Linked DNA regions of Homo sapiens. The protein of the gene in region 2 interacts with the protein of the main gene of each other region in a biochemical or structural test. Each region holds a gene or a part of one and is shown on either strand. Other genes may lie near its edges.

Region 1 (3,752 bases), on a different chromosome or scaffold from region 2:
TGAGTGGCAGGGCTGGGGAGGCCCGGGGGGCACGGGCGGGGTCGGGGCGTGGCAGCCAGCCCATTGTCCAAGCAGACCTTGGTGACCCTGGGTTCTTCAAGAGGGGCCGTGGTGCCGTCCTAGCTCTGGGCTGCAGCGTGAGACTCAGGCGGCAGTCTTGGATAGGACCCATCTTCCTGAGCCCCCACAAGCCCCCGGCACACTCTGCTCATTGGGGCATGAGGCTCAGGCAGCAGGCTCAGGTAGGACGTGGTACGCTCTGCTCAGTGGGTCGGAGGTAAGGTTCATTCATACCCCAGTCTTGAACCAGCTCTTAAGGACTGTGGAGGTGAAAGCCAGGTCTGACCTAGTAGCATTGGGCACGCTGAGGCTCCGAACATCTGGAGCCTCTCCCTGGCATCCCCCCTGGGAAGCCATGCCCAGCCTGTGATGAGGGCGGCACCTTCCCTCCGCCATCCCCGAGTGCTTGGACTTGAAGCATCCAGGCCTTTGGGGGCCTTATTGACTTTTGCTTATTGAAGGCTGCCTCTGGCATTTCCGTGTGGCCCCCTGCATCCCACTGAACCACGGGGGTGAGGCCTGGACTGAACATTCAACTCCCTGGGCCCTGCTGCAGCGTGCAGTGGGTGTGTCTGGGGAGGGTGGCTTGTCTGCATCTTGCTGTGGCATGGGAGGAAAGGCGCCTGTGGCAGTGACGTGCCCTCTCCTCTGTTACGGGATAAAGACAGAGTCTGGATCAGGGTGTCACCCCAGGATCACCAGCCACAGGGATGGGGGACCACGCAGGCTGGTGCATGCGTTGGCACAGTCCTTCCAGAGGTCCTTCAGCTGCATCTGCCAAAAAGCCTGTAATGCCCTTTGACCTCATAGGTCCACTTTAGCGTAAGCAAATGAGACCGGCCCCAGAAATGTGGTCAGCTAGAGGCGGAGGGAGGCCAGAGCCTGCCACCCAGCTGACCACCAGTACTGGTGGCTCCATTATGACATATCTGCAGGCGGAACCCAGAGGCCCTTAGAATGGCCCCCTGATGCTTGGTTACTGACAGGATGCAGCTTTGGGACAGGGGAGATGACCAAGCATTGTGCAAAATATCCCGTTGTATAAAGCACTTGGTGGAAAGGTCATGGCCTGCAGTACCGAGTGGCCACCTCCGTCTGCAGAATCATAGGTAATGTTTATGTTCTTTATCTAATTCAGTAAAATAGCATAACAATTAGATTTTTATATACTATATTACAGTATACCCATTGTAATGTGTAAATATGTAAATCATAAATAGTCTTGAAGTGGCCAGGTGCAGAGGCTCACACCTGTAATCCCAACACTTTGGGAGGCCAAGGTGGGAAGATCACTTGAGGCCAGGAGTTCAAGACCAGCCTGAGCAATATGGTGAGACCCCATCTCTACAAAAAAAATACAAAAATTAGCCAGGCATGGTGGTGCGCACCTGTAGTGCCCGCTGCTCTGGAAGCTGAGGCGGGAGGATTGCTCGAGCTCAGGAGGTTGAAGCTGCAGTGAGCCGTGATCGCGCCACTGCTCTCCAGCCTGGATGATGACAGACTGTGACCCTGTCTGTAAAAAAAAGTTCTTAATTTTAAAAAGTCACAAAGTGTTTACAGAAGCTACATTGTAACACCTGCTCTAGCACTTGGTCATGCTGCCATCTCTGTGTCTCTCCGGCAGGATTCTGTCATGCCTTCCCAAGAGCCTCCAGTAGACGACAAGAACGAGGACGCCGACCTTCCTTCCGAGGAGACAGATGGAAGTAGGCGCTGCTTTCTTCCGGCCGGGTAGAGCCTGGGCATCACCTCACCCTGCTCACCTCTGCCTTCTAGCCACGAGTCCTTTCTCAGTCCCATCTGCTCTGCAGGGGTCATTGTCTTCAAGCCTGGCCACCCTTCCCTGGGGCTGGGGATGAGGCTCTCCAGGGCCTCCTCTCAATCCCCGGCAGAGATGAGCAGGGTGAGCTGGCCCTCCCTGGAGGCTGCTGGGCAGGGATGCCTCCGTGAAGTGCTGTTGTGGTTGCCCAGGGGTGCAGAGCCTCTTCCTCTAACCAGCTCCGGGAGTTCTCGAAGGCACTTAGTGCAGCAGCCACCATGGCCGGGCACCTCCCACAATCTGGCTGCTGCACAGAGCTGAGCCCTATCTGGGGAAAGCCTGGCGAGGTGGCTGCTGCACACACAGCGTGGCAGTGGCATGGTCCTTGGATTTTTGTGAGGTTTTGTTTGTTGTGGGGAAGGACTTGTTTTATTGCTAAGAAGCATTCAGAGAGAGATCTCAAACACCAGTTGGACTTACAGCCCAGGTTTGAGCCTCCACACCTGCACCTCTGCACGGGGGTGTGAGAGCCTCACTTTCACTTGATGCATGTGAGTTCTGTCTCATTGGGAGACCACAGAACATAAAGCACTTATGAGACCACAGAACATAAAGCACTTAGTTCACACAGTGCCTCACGCAAAAGAGATGCCTCACAAACAACTGCCTGCCCACCTGCTCCTCCACCCACCTATCCTCTATACAGATATTCATCCGTACATCATCCATTCACCCACCTAGCCAACCAACCAGCCCTCATCCAGCCAACCAGCCATCCTCCACCCGCCCATTCTCCATCCATCCACCACCTATCCATCTATCCACGATCCATCCATCTCGTCATCCAGCCAGCCAGCCAGCCATCCTCCACCCACCCATCCTCCAGCTATCTTCCATTCGTTCATCTGTTGTCCACTGACCTCTCCATCTATCCATGTATCTATTGTCCACTGACCTCTCCATCTATCCATCTATTGTCCACTGACCTCTCCGTCTATCCGTCTATTGTCCACTGACCTCTCCATCCAACCGTCTATTGTCCACTGACCTCTCCATCTATCCATCCATCTTTTGTCCACTGACGTCTCCATCTATCCATCTGTCTGTTGTCCACTGACCTCTCCACCCATCTATCTGTTGTCCACTGACCTCTCCATCTTTCCATCTGTTGTCCACTGACCTCTCCATCTATCCATCTATTGTCCACTGACCTCTCTATCTATCCATCTATTGTTCACTGACCTCTCCTTCCATCTATCTGTTGTCCACTGACCTCTCCATCTATCCATCTATCTTGTCCACTGACGTCTCCATCTATCCACACATCTGTTGTCCACTGACGTCTCCATCTGTTCATCTATCTGTTGTCCACTGACCTCTCCACCCATCTGTCTGTTGTCCACTGACCTCTCCATCTTTCCGTCTATTGTCCACTGACCTTTCCATCTATCCAGCTATTGTCCACTGACCTCTCCATCTATCCATCCATCTATTGTCCACTGACGTCTCCATCTGTCCATCTATCTGTTGTCCACTGACCTGTCCACCCATCTGTCTGTTGTCCACTGACCTCTCCATCTATCCATCCACTGTCCACTGACCTCTCCATCTATCCATCCATTGTCCACTGACCTCTCCATCTATCCATCCATCTATTGTCCACTGACGTCTCCATCTGTCCATCTATCTGTTGTCCACTGACCTGTCCACCCATCTGTCTGTAGTCCACTGACCTCTCCATCTTTCCGTCTGTTGTCCACTGACCTCTCCGTCTATCCATCTATCTATTGTCCACTGACCTCTCCATCTATCCATCTATTGTCCACTGACCTCTCCATCTATCCATCCATCTATTGTCCACTGACCTCTCCATCTATCCATCCACTGTCCACTGACCTCTCCATCTATCCATCCATCTATTGTCTACTGACCT
Region 2 (3,752 bases):
AGGTTGAAATGCCTTGGGAATGCGGCTTGGAAGAGAGGATGGCCCACAGCTCAGGATGCTAGGGTCTTTGGCATAGAGGTGGTCATGGAAACCCTGAGAATGAGGGACCCCCATATTCTGGGGACATGGGAGAGAGAGAAAAATAGAGGGATGAAGACTGAGCTTTGGGAAATATGCACATCTTGGGTAAAATGAAGAAAGAAAGTGAAATGTGAAAAGAAAACCTCGGTAGCATGAGGTAAGAGAAGAAAGGAAGGAGTGAGTTTGAAGAAGGTCCAGGTAAGGGTCACTCATGTCTGAAGTCCAGGAGGATGTGGCTGAGAAGAAGCCCTTGAATGTGATGAGAAGGTCTTGGATGACCCACGGTGAAGCAGGGAGGTATGGGAGTGAAAACCAATTGCAGCAGGGCCAGGAGGGGTGAGAGGAGTCTGGGGCACTTGGGGTCATTGGACAGGGCAGGGGCAGGGGCAGCAGAGGACTCTGAGCACTGTAGAGGGAGCTCCAGGAAGGGAAGCGGGAGTGAGCCAAGGCGCTATACACTGCAGAATTCTCACCTTCCTAGAGCAGCCCTCTGATATTTATGTCTGTTTTCAGTGGTGGTTTATATTTTAGATAGTGAATACATTTGTGTGATTCTAAACTTTAAAGAGGAAAAAAAGAAAAAAAAATATTTTCTATGAGAAGCCTTCTTCCCTCCTATCCCTGTTTCCCAGCCACTCTGTTTTTCTTGCTCCCAGCAAGAGCATGTCGCCAGTTTCAGTGTTACAGGTTTCTGGGCTGTCCTTTCAAAGAGATTCTAAACATAGACAGTATCTTTTTCCTTTGGCTACCACCCCTCCTGTTACTACACAGACTGTAGCACACAGTGCACACTAGGCTGTCGTTTGCTTCTTTCACCCGATCATCTATCTTGGAGACCAGTCCCTTTCAATATATAAAGGGCTTCCTCGTTCTTTTATTTTTATATTGCCATGTAATACTCTATATCACGAGTCTATCATAACTTTCATAGCCAGCCTGTTATTAATGACATATAGATTATTTCCATCTTTTGCTTGTTATAAGCAAGGCTGCAGTAAGCCTAAGTCACTTGACTTGTGTAGCTCTATAGGACACATTATCTTACAGTTGGATTTACCAGAACAAAGGGCATTTGCATTTTAATTTGTAATAAATATTTCCAAGTTGCTCTCCATAAAGCAGGTTCTTCTCTCCCTCCTGCAACATATGAACATACCTGTTTCCCCAGGCCAACCAATGTGTTATCAAACTTTTTTTTAATTCTTGCAAATAGTGGATGAAAACGACTAGTTTGTTCTGTCCAACTGCCTGGACTCTCCTTCCACCTTTTCAGCACCTGCCCTCATGCCTCACCTTGAAGTTTTTCTACAGTGATTTTACATTTTCTTCTACCCTCTTTATCTCAAAAAAAATTTTTTTTCTAAGTTGGCAGAGCACATTCCTAACTATGAACTCCATTTTTGCATCTGGAGTGCCAAACACCAGCTTCTCTGAGTCCAAGGGTGGGGGCGCAAGCTCACTCTGTGACTGTGATTTGGACCTAAGTGAGTTTTTTAGTCACTTTGCTGTGCTTATGTGTCCTTTTCTGCTGTCTCAAAACTGCTCCTGTTCTTTGTTCCTTAAATACCACCTCTATAGGGCTATTTGTAGTGGCATTTTCCCAAAGGTTCAGGATAGCAGAGCACAGCAGACAACTGAAAATGGAACTGTGGATGTCCTGGTTTCTGGAAGTCCATTGCTCCCTCCTCCACTGGGCGTTTCTCACTGGCTTCCTTCTCTGCAGATTTTAGCCTTTTGCTAACCTGCGTGCACTTTCCCCTTTCCTCTGCCTCCTACTGGTTCCTAGCCCCAAAGTTTTAGCTGCTACTACAGAGTGGTCTAGCCATCTCTGATTTGCAGTTTCCCTTCAGAACGCACCTTCAAGATCCCTCATGTAAAATGAAGAGGCTCACGTTAAAAGGCCTAACAAGTAATTTTTCTCAAAAATAAAGTTCTTCCCCTAAGAGCAGCTTGACTATTAAGATACCAGTGTCTTCACTCATATCTTTTTTTTTTTTTTTTTTTTTTTGAGATGGAGTGTTGCTCTGTCGCCCAGGCTGAAGTGCAGTGGTGCAATCTTGGCTCACCGCAACCCCTGCCTCCCCGGTTCAAGCGATTCTCCTGCCTCAGGCTACCAAGTAGCTGGGGTTACAGGCACCCGCCACCACCATACCTGGCTAATTTTTTGTATTTTTAGTAGAGGCAGGGTTTCACTATGTTGGTCGGGCAAGTCTGGAAACTCCTGACCTCAAGTGATCCGCCCACCTCAGCCTCCCAGAGTGCTGGGTTTACAGACATGAGCTACTGCACTGGGCCTTTCACCCATATCTTGTCCCTGTGTGTCAGTTTTGCAAGGCAGTAATATCGAAACCAAATCCTAAAGCAGTTTATAATTTAGCCTGACACACTGTGCAAGCCAGGTTTTGTATGCAAGTTTGTGTGTATCATTAACTAATGAAATCTTAAAAAGCAGTTTGGCTTATTTATAGATAATGGAGCTGTTTCTTAACCTTGTGCCTTTTTTTTAAGCTGGTAGAAGCATATCCTGGTTATTATCTGGAATGTAGTAATACGGTAACCTTAAGAATGCCATAAATATTTAACCTAATAAGGGGATTGCTAGTCTTCTTTTCTTGATTGAAAGGGAAACAAATATTAATATTTGATCATTAATATGTGTTTTGGCTGTACAGATTTCTCCAGAGGCTGTCTTACTGCTTTTTGGTAATTAGAAATTACCAAAAAAAAAAAAAAAGAAAAGAAAACAAGACTAGTAACCCAAAAAGGACTTACTTGGTGAAATTGTCAATTGTCAGTTGGGCACTGTGGCCACTCCTTCCTATACTCTTCCCTGACTTCCAGAAGAGAAGCCAGGAACTAGGTCTCCCAGAGTCCCCTTTTATATGTGAAGTCCACTCCCAGGACTCCCAGGAAACTTGCAAGGCTGAAGAAAGAGAGGCAGTTAGTCATAGGAGACAGTTCAGTCAGATGTGTGAGCCAAGGCCAGTGTATGGTTTAGCAGCAGTGGACAGTCAGGCTCTGTGAATCACTCTTCCCAAGCTGCAGGCTGACAGAGGCTGAGATCCTTTCCAGACGTCTTGGCTTCTGGGCAAGTTCTGGAGAATCTCTCGCTTCAATATTGAATTGTATAACAACAGTACAAGGTCTAGGAGAAAAGAAATGGAAGTGTACTGTTGTCAGGTTCTTTATAGTATATGTGGAATAGTGCATAATATTACTTTAAAGTAGACTGTGGTAAGTAAAATATATAATATAAAATCCTTAACTTCTGAAAAAGAGTTATAGCTAATAGCCAACAAATGGGATAAAATGGAATCATAATAAATATTCTAATTAATCCAAAATAAGGCAGGAAAAGAGGGGAAAAAGAACAGATTGAACAAATAGCAGGATTTCTATAGAATTTGAATGGAAACCCAACCATATCAATAATCACAATGTAAATTGTCTAAACGTTTCAACTAAAAGGCAGAGATTGTTAGACTGAGTAAAAAAAAGCAAGACCTAACTATATGCTGCCTATAAGAAACTAACTATAGCTATGAAAACACATATAGATTAAATGTGAAAGGTTGGGGAAAAAATGTATTATGCAACACTGATCAACAGAAATTGGGAATGGATTGTTAATATCAGACAAAATAAATTATAGGGCAAAAAATATTACCAGG

The links. Proteins that work in one complex are often made in the same cells at the same time.
Region 1: the proteins of BLVRA (region 2) and PRKCZ form a complex in vitro, tested with the Homo sapiens proteins (one study listed by BioGRID).

The regions. Positions count from the first base shown.
Region 1 is NC_000001.11:2,144,343-2,148,094, forward strand, and holds part of PRKCZ (protein kinase C zeta type), read left to right. Parts: intron 1-1,044; exon of another isoform or gene 1,045-1,169; intron 1,170-1,684; coding exon 1,685-1,766; exon of another isoform or gene 1,767-1,963; intron 1,964-3,752. UniProt on the Homo sapiens protein: Calcium- and diacylglycerol-independent serine/threonine-protein kinase that functions in phosphatidylinositol 3-kinase (PI3K) pathway and mitogen-activated protein (MAP) kinase cascade, and is involved in NF-kappa-B activation, mitogenic signaling, cell proliferation, cell polarity, inflammatory response and maintenance of long-term potentiation (LTP).
Region 2 is NC_000007.14:43,782,533-43,786,284, forward strand, and holds part of BLVRA (biliverdin reductase A), read left to right. Parts: intron 1-3,752. UniProt on the Homo sapiens protein: Reduces the gamma-methene bridge of the open tetrapyrrole, biliverdin IXalpha, to bilirubin with the concomitant oxidation of a NADH or NADPH cofactor. Does not reduce bilirubin IXbeta.